4 separate regions of the Homo sapiens genome follow, and regions 1, 2 and 4 are each linked to region 3. The links come from fine-mapping of genetic effects on gene expression. A gene starts in region 3. Each other region holds a variant in brackets. All regions are shown on one strand. Distances are between the middles of the regions.

Region 1 (4,000 bases), 93 kb before region 3:
AACTCCTGGTCAGTGAGGTGCCAAAGGAACTGAGTGAGAGCAGCCTTCATACTTTCTCCCTGGGGAGCCTGGTCAGACTGTCTTCTCTTTCTCCGCCCCAGGCAAATCCAGTTCCAAGGTTCAGACCACTCCTAGCAAACCTGGCGGTGACCGCTATATCCCCCATCGCAGTGCTGCCCAGATGGAGGTGGCCAGCTTCCTCCTGAGCAAGGAGAACCAGCCTGAAAACAGCCAGACGCCCACCAAGAAGGTATGTGTCCCAGAGGGGCTTAAGGCACGGGACCTGACTGTTCTTTGGATAATACCATCTTGCTCCTTCACTACCCTTTATGCCAGGAACATCAGAAAGCCTGGGCTTTGAACCTGAACGGTTTTGATGTAGAGGAAGCCAAGATCCTTCGGCTCAGTGGAAAACCACAAAATGCGCCAGAGGGTAAGACCCGAAGTTCCTGGTTCCTGGAGGGAGGTGTCAGTTCATCTCCAGGGCTGAGCACAGATATCTGTCTCCTCTTCCTATCTAAGATTGAGGGCAAGGGAGGTGTTGATTTTCCCAGCGTCTAGACTCACTCCGTTGCCACAGGTTATCAGAACAGACTGAAAGTACTCTACAGCCAAAAGGCCACTCCTGGCTCCAGCCGGAAGACCTGCCGTTACATTCCTTCCCTGCCAGACCGTATCCTGGATGCGCCTGAAATCCGAAATGACTATTGTAAGTGCATCCTTATCCTCGCCTCATGCATGGAGAAAGAGGGCCTGGGACCACACAAACAAGGAAGCTCATGCTCTTCTCTCCACCTCTGACAGACCTGAACCTTGTGGATTGGAGTTCTGGGAATGTACTGGCCGTGGCACTGGACAACAGTGTGTACCTGTGGAGTGCAAGCTCTGGTGACATCCTGCAGCTTTTGCAAATGGAGCAGCCTGGGGAATATATATCCTCTGTGGCCTGGATCAAAGAGGGCAACTACTTGGCTGTGGGCACCAGCAGTGCTGAGGTGCAGGTGAGACGTGTCCAGTGCTGTCATTCTCACCAGTCCCAATGGGCTTGCACAGCTGGAGGATATTAATGCCAAGTCCCAATCTCTGATCCTAGTGGGCTTCTCTCTCTAGCTATGGGATGTGCAGCAGCAGAAACGGCTTCGAAATATGACCAGTCACTCTGCCCGAGTGGGCTCCCTAAGCTGGAACAGCTATATCCTGTCCAGGTCAGTGGTTTTTGTTGGTCTATGGTAGTCTGATATTTGCCCACCCTCCCCTTGACTGTACACCCCTGAACTGAACCAGCTCTGGCTTGCTTGCATTTGGTGCTGCCACAGAACCTGATTCCCTTCTTTCCTCCTCCAGTGGTTCACGTTCTGGCCACATCCACCACCATGATGTTCGGGTAGCAGAACACCATGTGGCCACACTGAGTGGCCACAGCCAGGAAGTGTGTGGGCTGCGCTGGGCCCCAGATGGACGACATTTGGCCAGTGGTGGTAATGATAACTTGGTCAATGTGTGGCCTAGTGCTCCTGGAGAGGGTGGCTGGGTTCCTCTGCAGACATTCACCCAGCATCAAGGGGCTGTCAAGGTGAGTAGGGTTGGGCTGAAGCCTCTGCAGACCCTCACCTATAATCTGGGGACTGTTAAGGGGAGAAGGGATGGTAGGATTGGACTGGGTTAATCTGTGACCCCTAGAGCTCCTTGTCTGGCTCTAGTACCTGCTGACCCCACCTTTATTCCATCTAGGCCGTAGCATGGTGTCCCTGGCAGTCCAATGTCCTGGCAACAGGAGGGGGCACCAGTGATCGACACATTCGCATCTGGAATGTGTGCTCTGGGGCCTGTCTGAGTGCCGTGGATGCCCATTCCCAGGTAATCTTTTGCCTGTTCCTGCCTCTCCCACATGCATTCTTACCGGGCAACTACATTCACTCCAATGGCTTCACCAACTCTATGCCCTGGTGATTCCCAAACTTCTAACTCAGCTCTCACTCATGAGCTTCATTTCCAACAGTCTGTGGCTATCTCCAATCCTATGTCCTATAGGCACCACCACCTTGATCTGTCCCAAATTAACCTTGTCACTTCCCCTTGCCTCCCTGAAATGTGTTCCTTCCTGTCTCACATTGCTTTGGAATGGCAGAA[C/A]CTGCTCAGAAATCTGAGAAACCTCCTAGAATTTTTCATCCTCCTCACCAGGATCTATCAGTTTTACCTCAAAATATCATTGACATCTGTCCCCTCCCCTCAGCCTCATCCTTCCAAGTGGAGGCCCACTACAATGGCTTCCTCACTGGTGTCAAGCATTCTTTGTTATCTCCTGCAATGCATCCTCCATGCTGTGGTCTGTTATACTGTACTGTCCTTAAACCTGTGATGGCTTCCCATCACTTATGGCATATAATCCAAATCCATTAGAAAGATACTTGAGGCTCTCTCCTTCCACTCCCCCCACATTCAGCCTTCACTGTAGATATGGACTCTAGAGCCAGATGGCCCAAGTTAAAATTCTGGCTCTGTCATCTACTAAACTTGAATGTGACCTTTGGCAACCTATTGAACTTCCTTCTGATTGATTCCTCATCTATCCAATGGATAATACAGATGCTCCCTGATTTAAGTCCCAGTAAACCCACTGTAAAGGTAAAAAATGGTTACATCAGCGAGTGTCTATAATTTGCCTCTCAAGGAACTTTTGTATGGACTATGATCATTCAACTCTGAGTCTGGAGCATGTGGCAGGGTGCCTAACACTAGAATGGGCTCAGTTCTGATTTAAGTAGCCTTGGCTATATGTCATGCCCACACCAGCTCCTCTCCACAGGTGTGCTCCATCCTCTGGTCTCCCCATTACAAGGAGCTCATCTCAGGCCATGGCTTTGCACAGAACCAGCTAGTTATTTGGAAGTACCCAACCATGGCCAAGGTGGCTGAACTCAAAGGTAAGTGGCTAGGTGAAAAGCCGGACATAAAAGGCCACATAATGTATGACTGAAATGTCCAGAATAAGCAAATCCAGAGAAAAAACACATTAATGGTTGCCAGGGGCTGAGAGAGGGTAATGGGAAATGTTGAAAATGTCTTAGAATTAGTTTTAACAGTTGTACAATTTTGTGAATATACTAAAAATCACTAAACTGTACACTTTAAAAGGATGCATTTTATGGTGTGTGAATTATATCTCAGTAACACCATTGAAAAAAAAGGGAGGAGGCCAGGCACGGTGGCTCACGCCTGTAATCCCAGCACTTTGGGAGGCTGAGGCGGGCAGATCATGAGGTCAGGAGATAGAGACAATCCTGGCTAACATGGTGAAGCCCTGTCTCTACTAAAAAACACAAAAAATTAGCCAGGCGTGGTGGCAAGCACCTGTAGTCCCAGCTACTCGGGAGGCTGAGGCAGGAAAATGGCATGAACCCAGGAGGCGGAGCTTGCAGTGAGCCAAGATTGCGCCACTGCACTCCAGCCTGGGTGACAGAGCAAGTCTCAAAAAAAACAAAAAGGTAGGTGGGTGGCCCAGTGCCTCCTTTATGGCTATGGCTGCATCAGCATTCGTATGTACTGTTCTCATTTGCTCCAGGTCACACATCCCGGGTCCTGAGTCTGACCATGAGCCCAGATGGGGCCACAGTGGCATCCGCAGCAGCAGATGAGACCCTGAGGCTATGGCGCTGTTTTGAGTTGGACCCTGCGCGGCGGCGGGAGCGGGAGAAGGCCAGTGCAGCCAAAAGCAGCCTCATCCACCAAGGCATCCGCTGAAGACCAACCCATCACCTCAGTTGTTTTTTATTTTTCTAATAAAGTCATGTCTCCCTTCATGTTTTTTTTTTAAATCTGTTTCAGCTAATGCCTTTCTTCTTTCATGACCTATGTCCCAGCAGCCTTCCTAGGGGCTCTACTCTACTGGGATCAGAGAGCTAGATATGTCCTGTGGGAGCCTGGACCATCCATCCCTCTTGTTTGTGGACAGGGCTAAGCGTGTTGTGTTCCCCCACCTCCTCTGTTCACATACGTATAC
Region 2 (4,584 bases), 56 kb after region 3:
AATCACTGGTCCTTTGATGCTCCTCTTCTCCTCTTCATTATATTTTGCTGTCTCCAGATTCAGTGTGGTGGAGAGACTTTGGGAGGCCAAAGCAGAGGATCACTTGAGGTCAGGAGTTCGAGACCAGGCTGGATAACATGGCAGAAACTCTGTCTGTACTAAAAACACAAAAATTAGCCAGGCATGGTGGCACACGCCTGTGGTCCCAGCTACTCAGGACGCTGAGGCACAAGAATCGCAACTCTGATTTGGGTTGTAAAACCTGGGCATCCTTAGCCAGAGGCCCCCTAGGAGGCCTTGGTTCATCTCCCCACCTGGGCAGTAGAAGTTATAGTGAACTGAGATCACCCCACTGCACTCCAGCCTGGGTGATGGAGCAAGACTCCAGCTCAAAAAAAGAAAGTGTGGTGGAGAGGGCTTCCCACATCCCCACAGATGTATGGGTGTCTCGCCCCAACTTGGGGTCAAGGTGTCACTGGGTTTTCATTTCAAAGGGTCACCGGTCAACTTTGTCTCTCCATCCGCCTCCTCACCATCCATCTCCTCCTACTCACGCCTCATCAAAAAAGAAGGCTGGCTTCTCTTTGGCCTCTCTGGGGCATTTCCTGTTCAGCTTGTCATGGGAGGTATAGTCAGTGTCCTCAGACAGGTGGATTCCCACTCTTCCAGGTCTCTCTTGGGTGGCTTGCTGTTTGGACATACCACCTTAACAGCCCTGGCCTCTGGCTGCATGTTAGAAACTGTCAGGAGTCCTGCCCCATCCCCTCTCAGATATGGAATTTTCTCAATTGCTAAGCTATTTTCTGCCTATCTGGGGCCACCAAACGCATTTTGAAACTCAACCTCCAGTCTGCAAACCTGGCTCTACACCTGGATAAATTGCAAGAAATCTTTCAGTGGCAATAACAGAACACCAGCTCAAATTACTACAGGGAAAAAGGGGGATTTGCTGGTTCATTCACTGAAAAATCACAGAGGCAGTTAGCTTCAGGCTCAGCTGGATCCAGGTGCTTAAACAAAGAGTTGGTAAATGACAGCCTGTGAGCCAAATCTAGCCTGCCACCTGTTTTGTAAATAACTTTCTATTGGAATGCAGCCGTGCTTATTTGTTTACATATTGTCTATGGCTGCTTGTACCCTACAACCACAGAGCTGAGTAGTTGCAACAGAGACCACATGGCCCACAAAGCTGAACATATTTACTATTGGCTCTTTATAGAAAAAGTTTGCCAACCCCTGGCTTGAACAATATCATCAGGAATGTGCCTTTATCTCTCATTGCCTAAAGGCTGTTGTTAGTGCCCTTGCCCTTCCCCCTAAACTGCAAAGACTGAGAGTGGCTGAGATGTGACTCCCCAAGTAAAGACCGGGGGGAAGGATAAATGGCTTTGGAGCAGGCCAAAACAACAGATGTCTGCTCTACAGGCTCTGAACTTGTTTTCTGTGCAGTGACAAGCCGTAAACCACTTGGAGTTTATCCTTCAGCTTGGTGGCATCCTGAATGAGACTGTCCCTGTCTCCTTGTTGCCAAGCCCAAAACAAGATCAACAAGTGATCATGGCTACAGCCCGACTATCACCATAGAGAGTGCTCAGTCAGCAGCACCGTTCCGGGGGCAGCGTGTGGATGAGAACATCTTCACACCAGCCCCAAGGCCCTATCCGATCTGCATAGAGCATGCCAAACACATTTAATTATGTTCTGTTCAGTCCCTTGGGCTGGGGAGTCCCCTTGGGGAGCAATTCTAGTCTTGCCAATTGAAGTTCTGCGGGTAAAATAATTCTTAGAATCTCACCATTTTTTGATGAGATGATCTCAAAACAGAAAATCCAAAAACTGATAAGAACTTTTCCCAACACCCTCCTGCCACCGAGTATGCTTCTTGATCTTTGCTGGGGTAGCTGGGCATGGGAGGAAGTACGCCTTCCAGACTTGACTGTCCAGTTTCAGAAGACAGCAATCAAGGTGTGCCAGTTTCAAAAAGCATCCCATGCTGAGTCATCTCCAGAAGGGCGGGTTGGTGGGCAGTGTTTTCTATGAACTGCACTGGGGCGCAGGTGTCACATTTTATTTGGACATCCTCTGCCATCTTGGGCCAGAGGAATCATGCCCTAATTAGCCCCAGCATCTGTTCCCTCCCCAAGGCCTAAAATCATCATGCGTGGACTCAGTGCCGCAGGGTAGCCTTTTTGAAACAGTACCAACTGCTTCCACAGACCATGTATGAGGCACAAGGAATCCTGTACAATACCTAATAATTAGGGCAATTTCTGTCATTCCTAGAGAATGGCGTTCGGGCCATAAGAGAAGCTTTGTACCCTTCCTGCCAAGAGACCTACTTCTTCCCTTTCACTGTCAACCACAGCTAGACATCTTCCTAGCAAAGCTCTTTGCCAGTCAACCACATTCATCTGGGGCAGAGAGGTAGATTTGGGTTATATAATTCAAGGCTATAAGTACAGCTTCTGAGCATTGCCCTAGGCTGTCAGCCAAGCCTCTTTTCCAGACCCTTTTGCCATTCCAAATGGTCTACGCTCCCTCATTAAAGATGGTCTCGGTGATACGAGGACATGACCTTTGTAACATAGCAGCTGCACCTTC[A/G]CAGCACATGAAAACAACATTGGAATTACAGGCCACTGGAGCATCCCCTGAGCATGCCTCCCAATACCCAATCCAGTGCTGGTAAGTGAAGGGTGCAACAGCCCACACCTGAATGGTGCTCCAAATTCACATTCCTTAGATGTATTCTGATAACGCATATCAGCATTAAAAATGCTGGTCTGGGCCTGCTGCGGTGGCTAACACTTATGATCCCAGCACTTTGGGAGGCCGAGGCAGGAGGATAACTTGAGCCCAGGAGTTTAAGACCAGCCTGGGCAACATACTGAGAACTCATCTCTACAAAAAAAATTTTTTTAAATTAACTGGGCATGGTGGCATGCACCTGTAGTCTCAGCTACTCAGGAGGCTAAGGCGGAAGGATCACTTGAGGCTGGGAGGTCGAGGCTACAGTGAGCCATGACCAAGCCACTGTATTTCAGTATTTCAGCCTGAGTATTTCAGTCTCAAAAAAAAAAAAAAAAAAAAAAAAAAAAAAAAAAAAAAAAAGCTGGTCTGTTCATAGAGTATTGGGCCTTACTGCCAAATGGCCATTGATGAGCAACATCACAATTTTATTATCCCCATCGACCTGATATAACACCACCTTCCATCTGTTTGTCCTAGATCAAGATTGTCTGCTGGCATTCTTTCCTTTAGGGAACCACCTCTCCCTCATTCCATGTGGCTTAGGGGGCACTGATCCCCACTCAGTCCTCATCCTCAAGACCCAAAGGTGGGTGTGTGACATGAGCCTGCAAATCAGACTACTCCATTTCCAATCTCTAGCCGTAGTGATTAGTTCACAGATGGGCACATGACCAAGCTGAGCCAATCAGAATCTTCCCTGGGAGTTTTCTGCCAGAACTATCAAGAAAATGCTCCTGTATTCTCTGAGAGTGGAAGATGGAGCTGCCTTAGCCATTTTCACTGTCCATGTGAAGGAATAATTCTGCAATAGAAGAGAATGAGGCCAACAAGCAATGTGAACCAGAGAATAAACCAAGATGAGAGATGGAGGGGGATGGAGACAGGCACAGAAACAGAGAGAAACGTGATGACAGTTATATGAGTCCTTGAACCCAGCCATTTCTGAGTATCTAGTCTAGGCTTTGAGAAAATAAAATATTATAAGCACCAGTCTATTATTTCATCTTTGTTTAACATTGTAATTGAAACCAGAGGTTTCAATCCCAATAAATAAGGAATCTTCAGAGAATGAATAGTTATTGACACAGTGCTTTTGAGAATGCAAAGCACTGGACTGGACATAATTTTTTGTGTGGCAAAAATTAGGAGTAAGGTGAAAGGTAGAAAGTACAGAGAAAGAGAGACACATATACACACACACGCAGAAAGAGAGAGAAAGAGAGAGACTATTAACCATATGGAGTTAAGATCTTACTTCAAATTACATTTATTCTTATTTTATACCTTGTCATCATGATATTGAGCAGTTTGTATGCATGAAGCTCTCCTCTGACATTCTACTCTAACTGCAATGGTTTATTGTTTTACAACCCTTAACCCTGAGACTATGATGCTTGTTTATTGTAGAAAATTGTATTTACTCCTTGTAAGTTCGTTATAAGGAATTGAACTTTCCAGCAACCCTGTAATATTTCACCTGAACTGAGTATGACTTCAGTGCTCTTGTTTTATTTAAACCAAACAGCAGTACAAGGCTGGTATAGTTTCTTGGTGTTGGGAAAAAAAGTATTTGTAAAGTGTTTTTTTTTCCCCCTTGCATAAGTTATACAAGAAAAACAAATACTGGTTATAACGGACTCACATTAAAAGCACAATGCACAATTTAAACTTTCTTCCACACCCTGGGCTTTTGAGTTATGTCAACCAATATATTGTCCTTTCTTGTTCAGGTGCAACAGAAAGAATCTTGAGTAATGCACCTTCTGAGGGGGAGTGGTGAGGGAGGCAAGGGCTAGGTGGGTCAGCAGGGTGAGCTGATCCCTACTGTTCCTAACA
Region 3 (4,010 bases):
GGACTGGAGGCCTTGCCTCCCTTGGCTCTCTCTGCACCTCTTCCAGGATTCCCTGACTGTGCCAGCCCTCGTCCGTCTCCCCAGGTCTCCAGTCCATGGCACCTGGGTCACGATGCCCAGGTATCCCAGCACTTTCAGAGACACTTCAGTGATGGCTGAGGGGCAAGCCCTTTCCCAGACATCTCAGTGTCCACCCACCGCCTCCTGCCTCCAGTACTTTCCAAAACCTTTCCTTCCCTCGGTCCTTCTCCGCAACCTGTAACCTGCTAAATTCTCACCTTTAAAAATTGTCCTGACCTTTGCTTGCCCTTCTCAGGTATTCCATGCTGCTGTCTCTACTTCCTCTCCTCGCATCTACTTAGCCTTTTCCCATCTGTTTTCTGCCCCCACCATTGACCAGTAGTGATCCCCTCTTGCCAGTTCCTTCTGAGCCTGTTTGGCCTCTGCAGGATTTGACATTTGAATCAGCCCCACTTTGAGCCGTCCACCTCCTCCCATCATCCCCTGATCTTAGCCACATCCAGCTCCAAGCAGACATTCCAGGCCTCCCCATCCCAACAGGCTACATACATGTCCAGCCTCAGGAACGCTGCCAAATACACCAGGCCTCCTCTTGCCACAGCACCCTTGCAAGGAACACTCAACTTCCTGCCCATCAAGCAATGCCCACTCCTTGAAGACAGTCCAAGCATCACTACCTGTAAGCAGCTTTCTCTGATCCAGACAGGGTTAGGTGCCTACCCTGCTCCCACAGCTTCCTGGAATAGGCCTGTCCTCAAATGCATCACTGTATATATTTACTCTCCTATCTGCCTAGGCAGACTGAGCTCCCAGCATGGGATCCCAGCATGGGGTGAGCATGAAAGAGTGGCAAACAGAGTGGCATAAGACAGATAAAATACAAAAGGCAATTTACAAAGGACCAGGACCGCAGAGGCAGAGATAAACCAGTGGGCTCAGACTTCTGAGCGTCTCAGATCTGGCGTCCTCGACTCCCTGAACCTGCATCAGGGTCATGGGTCACAGGGGTGGGGGTGGGGTGGAGCGGGGTACCTGGGACAGCCCAGGGCTTTGGCATACCGCACGGCCTGCTCCAGTCCCTCTCGGAAGGCCGCCTGTCTCCCGGGGACGGCCCCCAGCCCCATTTCCCCCTTCTCTTGGTCTCCTGCAGAGAGAACGGGCCTCAGCCCCCGGCTCGGACACTCCCCTGCCCGCGCCCCGGCACCCCCCAGCCCTCCCAGCCCTCCCGGCCCGCGACGCACCCGGGGGCGTGTTGATCAGTACAAGCCGCAGCCCCGCTTCTCGCGCGGCGCGCGCCAGCGCCTCAGGCGTCTCCGCGTACGGCCAGGCCACCTCGACGGCCTCGAAGCCCGAGCTGCCCGCGGCCCGCACCCGCGCGGGGAGGCCGGAGAGCTCGGGGAATAGCCAGGACAGATTGGCGGAGAAGCGCAGCGGCGCCATGCCTGGGGAGGCCGGGCCGGGCGGAGTCCGCGGGATCCAAAGGCGGCGGGCGGCGGGCGGCGGGCGGCGGGCGGGGGCGGGGCTCTCCTTGCTGGCCCTGCGAACGAACGAGCACTGTTCGTGGTTAGAAAAGCGAAGTGCTGTAAAAACCCGGGCCTTCACGAAAAGCGCCTACGGTTAGCGAGAGAGGGATCACGGGGAGAGGCGAAGGGGCGGAGCGAGGGCGGCCGGAAAAGGAGCAGGACCCGCGCCTGGAGAAGGTAGGGAGGCCGAGCTCCAGGGCCTGAGAGCCGGACGCGAAGCAAGAGAGAGCTGGCTGCCCGAGGGCCCGGTTGCAATGATGGGACGCGCACTTTAATACTGAGTCTTTCCTCTGATTATAAAAATGCTATCTGTTCGTTAAGCAACATTTGAAAGCTGTATGACCAAATAAAGAAGCACTTTTATACCGCCAGTTATCACACCACTAGCCTGTTGGCTTTCCCGTCCAAATTTTAAAATATGCAATTTTTTTCTTTGGAAATTCTGATCATTCGGTATATGCTGTTTTATAGCTCTTTTTCATGGAATATTATTTTGTGAGCATTTCCTCGTGTTTTCCAATAGCCTTCAAAGTCAGTGCCTTCGCTGCTCATTGTCGCACACCTAAGCAGCAAGTCATTATTGTACTTTGTGGTTGGATATCGTGTGTGTGCACGCGCGCTGCAAGCGCACTTTCAGGCACTTCTTAGTCCCTATCTCTGACTCTTTTCCGAGTCTTTTTCTAGAGATGTCCATCACAGTGTTTGCCCGTTCACGCCGCTAGTCTTTTGCAAGGGAAACCGCCCCATTGGAGCAGCTATGGGTGAGCTGTCCCTTTTTAGCCTTAGCCTCAGCTGATTGGACCAGGGAGGTCATCTGATCCCAGGGCAGCCAATCCATAGACTGGCCAAAAACCTCTTACTTGCGTCGTTTGGAAAGGTAATTTAACCAATCAAGAGTTCAAACAAGGAAATGCTGAGAGTCAACAGGTGGTGTTGCCAGAAGGTGACTGGGCTGTAGAAACGAAATAAGACAGTCCTATGGTAAAGAAAAGCTAGAGCGGAAAGGAGGGGAACCAAGTCCTGTGAATAGAGGTAGCACCCTGAGAAACCCATGTCATCCCAAGGGTGCCCAAACCCATAGCTGCCCCCAGGTCTGTGCACTTAAGGCTGGGATGCTTAGACTTTCCTGGGTTTCTGTCTCTGTATAGCCTCTTAATGTTTCTTGAGATAATTTGAATGATTTTACTTTCATCTACAATAACCCAACTGATTGGGCAGGTTCTTATGGGTAGAATTACATGGTCAAAAATAGGAACATATTTAAGTTGTTGATATCTTAAATTTCCTTTGAAAAATATAAATTTATATCCCAACAATTCATGAGTAAACGTCATCTTGATCTATCGTCTGTGCTAACTTTGACAGAGAAGCTTAAAGTGCAACATTAGGAACACCCAGCTCCCACTGATTGTTCTGTCAACACTCAACTCCATCTCAAATGAGGCCAGCTCAGACACCAGGGATCCAGCCTGATCCCGTGGTGAACCCAAATTCTTGGCAGGTTCTGTTTCTTCAGCTCTGCCTCCAAGAACAGACTGCTGCCAGCTGACACTGATCACCTGATTTCATGCTCTTTTGCAGCTGGTTTTACACTAGGACCTTTGCCTTGTCTTGGAACGTGTTTCTCGTCCAATCAAGACCTCACTAAGCTTAACATTGTAATCAGTCCCAACTTTAGTGTGTTTGCAATCCAAAATTGACAACAAAGAGTAACATCTAGAGGAAGTAATTCCTTTATTACCACCTCACTGTTGATCTCCGAGTATGCAAATTCTATTTATGATGTTGACAGCTGCTGAGCTCTGCGTCAGAAACAAAATGTGTCCAACTCCCGATTGTCCACCCCTTTTTTCCTTGGACATGCCTTAGGGCAGTAAAGATTATACATAAACTAGACATAGGTGACTCACTTTCCCCTTAATTCCCTTACAACACCTTCCACCTTCACATAATATGCTCAAATAAATATATAAGGAGTGCAATGTCCATGAAAATTATTTGCTTTATTCACCTTTGACTATGTCTTATCCCACCTTGCAACACAGGCATGACACTAAGTTATCACAAGTTTTGATTCTTTGCATTTGCCTTTTTTTTTTGCTTTATTGTGCACACTTCACAGGTACGTATTTGACTTTTAACCAAATAATTTGCACAGGTGTGATTTTAAAGTAACAACAACTTGTAAATAGTTGCATGGATAATGGCAAAAACTTTAGTACAGAGTTCAGAGTCTCATTTGATCATTGGATAACATTTGGCAATGCAGTAAAACATATTACAACTCATGTGAAATGCAAATCAAAACCTCAATGAAATTCTATTTTATGCCTTCCACATTGGCAAAAATAAAAAACACATTATCAAATATTGGATAGGATTTGGAACAACTGCCAACAGGAGTGTAAATCACTATAACCTCCTTGGAAAACAATTTGGCATTGTCTCTTAAAGCTAATATGCCTA
Region 4 (4,584 bases), 120 kb before region 3:
TAGAAAGTAGATTAGTGGTTGCTTAGGACTAGAAGGAAGTTGGGGAGATATGAGGATGAGTGTAAAAGGTACAGGATTTCTTTTTGAGGTGATAAAAATGATCTAAATTTGACTGTGGTTGCACATATCTGTGAATATACTAAAAACCACTGATTTGTACACTTTACATGGGTGAGTTGTATGGTGTGTGAATTATATTTCAATAAAGCTGGGTTGTTTTTTGTCTGTTTGTTCATTTGTTTTTTTGAGATGGAGTCTTGCTTTGTCACCCAGGCTGGAGTGAGTGCAGTGGCGTGATCTTGGCTCACTGCAAGCTCTGCCTCCTGGGTTCACACCATTCTGCCTCAGCCTCCCAAGTAGCTGGGACTTCAGGCGCCCACCACCACGCCCGGCTAATTTTTTATTTTTATTTTTTTTAGTAGAGACAGGGTTTCACCGTGTTAGCTAGGATGGTCTTGATCTCCTGACCTCGTGATCTGCCCACCTCGGCCTCCCAAAGTGCTGGGATTACAGGTATGAGCCACCGCGCCTGGCCAAGCCGGGTATTTTTTTTAAGTGAAGGCAAGGAGATCAGTGAAAGACCACTATATATAGTAGTGTGGGTGAAATGATGGTGTGGTGGTAGCAAACTGGAAGAAATAACTGAAGAAAGAATAGACAGGGGTTGAATACGGGACTGAAAGAAGAGTCTAGGATCACTGCCAAGCTTCTGTTCATATGATGGGTGGGTGGTGATACCAGTCACTAAAAGAATAAAAACAGCTAATATTTACATAGTACTTAATTACCCGGCACCATTCCAAGCATTTTGCATGTATTAATTCATTCAGTCTTCAACAATCCTATTAGTAGGTACCATTATTATTGTCATTTTACAGAGAACAGGACCAGAGAGGCTAGTAACTTGGCTAAAATCTGATAGCTAGTAAGAGGCAGAGCTGAATCTGTTGTTCTTGTTTTGAGACAGGATCTCGCTTGGTCTCCCAGGCTGGAGTGCAGTGATTCGATCATAGCTCACTGCAGCCTCAACCTCCTGGGCTCAAGCAATCCTCCTGTCTCAGCCTCCCAAGTAGATGGGACTACAGGCATGCACCACCATGCTCAGCTAATTTTTTTAATTTTTTTTGTAGAGAGAGGGTCTCCCTATGTTACCCAGGCTGGTCTCAAACTCCTGGGCTCAAGCGATCCTCCTGCCTTGAGCCTCTAAAAGTCCTGGGATTACAGGCATGAGCCACTGCACCTGGCCAAGAGCTGACATTTAAACCTGGATATTCTGGCTCCAGAGTCCCTCTCTTAGCCACAGTACTATGCCGCTTCTCTGGCAGTAGAAAGGGCCAGATTTGGGTATAGTACACTTCCAAATTCACCACAAATATATCAATCACACACCACATTCCAGGTTGTGGGCCCCAAAGATATCCTGCCCCAACAGAAGGTCTCCCCATTCCCACTGTAGCACTGAAGACCCAGAACCCCAATACAAGCAAGTCAGCAAACTGCAGGTCCAGAGCACAGTCCTAAATGCTCAGCCTCGTCTGCCTGCACCTGTTCCAGCCTCAGTTCTCACAGCTTCACTCAACAGCCATATTCTCACAGGAGATGGCCTGGGTTGGGTGGGGCTTGGAGCAAAAGACCAGCCCAGCAGCACAAACTTGTTTCCAGGGATAGAATGGAAAAGGCCAGAGGAAAAGCCTCATTAGGAGGCAGCTGGGAAAGGCGAACCCAGTGAGTACTTCATCCGAGGAACCTCCCTACAACCCGTCCTGGCCACAAAAACAGAACTCCCACCAGTTGGCCCTGAGTCATTCATTCCCCTCCCGCCCCCAGGGAAGGGGTGATTTCCTGCAGGCAGCTCAGGCTCCTCCCAGGGGCTGTGCATCCTCTTATCTCACCCAAGGCCCTCTCCTAGGGCAGGGCAGGCAAACCAGAAGCTGGCTGCAGTGGGGCTGTCCTTGTATTTCCTCAGCGGGCCTTGGATTCTGGGGTCAGGGAGAGACCCAGCAGCTTAAGGACCACTCAGGAGCCAGGATGTCTCATGAAGAGCAGAGGACAGAGGGCTGAC[C/T]AAACTGGGTTCTCTGCAGCTCTCTCCCTTGGGGTTACTACTGGGCAACTACTGGTCCTGTTTCCATTTACTTGAGTTAAACCTCTCCAGATGCCTGTTTTGAACTCAGACTCATCCAGCTCAAGACTCACACCATGCCCTGTGCCAGGCTTATAATGTTAAATGAGTGAATAAAATGGAGGAAACAGCCATAACATGCTCCTAGTCAGAGGTATCTGTGCAGTAGTTAAAAGAACAGGCTTTAGAGTCAAACAGACCTGAATCCAAATCTCAGCTCCATCCTTTGATAGTGACTTTGAACTCACTGACTCCTTCTAAGCCTCAGCTTTCTCTTCTGTGAAGTAAGGACAAAGGCACCTAACAGGGTGGTTGTATGATGAAATGAGACAATGCATTCCCACAGTGCTGGCAAACAGCAAGTGCTCCTCACTGCTAGGTGGCAGGATCCTGGCAAGAGAGGGAGTTAGGGAGGAGGGGGCAGGCCCACTCCCACCCAGCGCCTACCCCAGGAGGAGGGCCTTAAGATGGCAGTCCCCGGGCTGGATGCGGTGGCTCATGCCTGTAATCCCAGCACTTTGGGAGGCCGAGGTGGGCGGATCACGAGGTCAAGAGTTCAAGATCAGCCTGGCCAACATAGTGAAACCTCGTCTCTACTAAAAATACAAAAATTAGCCAGGCGTGGTGGTGCCTGCCTGTCATCCCAGCTACTCTGGAGGCTGAGGCAGGAGAACTGCTTGAACCCAGGAGGCGGAGGTTGCGGTGAGCCAAGATTGCGCCATCGCACTCCAGCCTGGGCAACAGAGCAAGACTCCATCTCGGCGGGGAGAAAAAGAAAAATGACAGTCCCTACTTGGGGATTCAGTTCTTATGTAGCTAGAGTGGGGGCACAGCATGTCATTTTATACATAAGAACCCCCCAACAGAGGCTCAAGTTTCTGCGGGAACTCAAAGGAAGAAAGGTTATGTGTGTGCACCCAAATGACTTCAAGGGGTGCCCTTTGGGGTCACCCTTTTGATTTGTGTCTAATTATTATGGCTCAGTTCCTATTCCACATCCTTTGGGAGGTACATGCCTTCCTGTGTTTCTACCAGGACTCTCCAAGGGTTTCCATCCGACAGGTGTCGTTACCTCTTTTCCTTTGTTCCGAAAGCACCATGAATGGAGGGTTTTGTGTACAGTACACTTTACTGGATGTCTGGGCATGCTGTAGGGAAGCCAAGCACTCACAGAATAGGGAGCATACTGAGGATTTGGCATCATCATTCTGGAATTCTCCTCAGACAGTCCTACCTGGAATTTCTCACTGGTTGACCTTTCTTCTCCTCAGGTGGCCATCTTTCACTTACCGGCCCTCCTCCGTTTTCTCTGGAGTTACCACAGGACATTCTAAAATTCCCATCCATTTCATTTCCCCCAAACTCAGCTCTCTAATGCTTCCTATCAAGGCCATGCCCAAAGGCCCATCCAGTTTGTTTCTGATCACAAAAGAGCTACAGGGCCTCTAAAAGGAATGTGAAATTGTATTTCGCTTTTTTAATTAGCCTTTTCCCCCAGTTGCATATAGTTGGGGGGATAAGAAAAGACTCCCAAGAAATAGTGACTTAGGGGCAGGCAGAATCACAAAGGAAGTTCCAACAGGCTAAGTGGGGAGGGTCTGTGCCTGGGGAAGCAATGGGAACAAGGCCCTGTGCCTAGAAAGGGGATTGGGTATGGGGACTAGTGAATGGAGCATCCTGAGGGGGAGATTCCAGCAATGGGGGTCTTGTGCTGCAGCACTGAGGGATGAGCCTTCCTCATCTTGTGGAGCTGCAGAAAGATTTCCAGCAGGAAGAAAATAAATAAAAGCACATTTGAACCTCAGAAAAAGCACTGAGTAAGGATATACCATTTGTCAACTATCAGAATGGCAAACTTAAAACTTAACGTTGACTGGCCGGGTGCAGTGGCTCATGCCTGTAATCCCCATACTTTGAGAGGCCAAGGCGGGAGGATCGCCAGAGGTCAGGAGTTCGAGACCAGCCTGGCCAACATGTTGAAACCCCGTCTCTACTAAAAATACAAAAATTAGCTGGGCATGGTGGTGCACGCCTGTAATCCCAGCTACTCAGGAGGCTGAGGCAGGAGAATCGTTTGAACCTGGGAGGCAGAGGTTGCAGTGAGCTGAGATCGCACCACTGCACTCCTGCCTGGGCGACAGAGTTAAGACTCTGTCAAATCAAAAACAAAAAACAAACAAAAAAAGTTGACAAAGATGTGGGGGAAATACAGCACCCTAACACGCTGCTAAGTGTATAAACGGAACCATTATATTTATTTATTTATTTATTTATTTATTTATTTATTTATTTAGAGATGGAGTTTCACTCCTGTTGCCCAGGCTGGAGTGCAATGGCACAAACTCGGCTCACCGCAACCTCCACCTCCCGGATTTAAGCAATGCTCCTGCCTCAGCCTCCCGAGTAGCTGGGATTACAGGCATGTGCCACCTTGCCCGGCTAATGTTGTATTTTTAGTAGAGACG

Evidence for each region. PIP is the estimated chance that this variant, and not a neighbour inherited with it, causes the effect.
Region 1: its variant is the best candidate, but not a certain one, in a credible set for the expression of HYI in whole blood (TOPMed, PIP 0.61).
Region 2: its variant is the best candidate, but not a certain one, in a credible set for the expression of HYI in whole blood (TOPMed, PIP 0.73).
Region 4: its variant is the best candidate, but not a certain one, in a credible set for the expression of HYI in whole blood (INTERVAL, PIP 0.75).

The regions. Positions count from the first base shown.
Region 1 is chr1:43,359,389-43,363,388 of GRCh38, forward strand. It overlaps CDC20 (cell division cycle 20), which reads left to right. Exons shown (of 11, transcript NM_001255.3): 2 at 1-8; 3 at 102-250; 4 at 337-433; 5 at 581-709; 6 at 805-1,001; 7 at 1,111-1,205; 8 at 1,345-1,573; 9 at 1,732-1,857; 10 at 2,807-2,924; 11 at 3,563-3,815. The coding sequence ends at 3,741. Among named protein-coding and RNA genes, the nearest start is that of CDC20, 2.4 kb to the left of the region's middle. The variant C/A (reference allele first, on the strand shown) is at 2,131.
Region 2 is chr1:43,508,195-43,512,778 of GRCh38, forward strand. No RefSeq gene overlaps it. Among named protein-coding and RNA genes, the nearest start is that of PTPRF, 20 kb to the right of the region's middle. The variant A/G (reference allele first, on the strand shown) is at 2,602.
Region 3 is chr1:43,452,333-43,456,342 of GRCh38, forward strand. HYI (hydroxypyruvate isomerase (putative)) reads right to left here and starts at 1,599. Exons shown (of 8, transcript NM_001190880.3): 1 at 1,263-1,599; 2 at 1,054-1,165. The coding sequence starts at 1,461. It overlaps SZT2 (SZT2 subunit of KICSTOR complex), which reads left to right. Exons shown (of 72, transcript NM_001365999.1): 72 at 1-1,915. HYI-AS1 (HYI antisense RNA 1) reads left to right here and starts at 1,595. Exons shown (of 2, transcript NR_174945.1): 1 at 1,595-1,721. RefSeq lists an enhancer at 1-375 and silencers at 1,166-1,225, 1,336-1,635.
Region 4 is chr1:43,328,569-43,333,152 of GRCh38, forward strand. No RefSeq gene overlaps it. Among named protein-coding and RNA genes, the nearest start is that of MPL, 7.0 kb to the right of the region's middle. The variant C/T (reference allele first, on the strand shown) is at 2,063.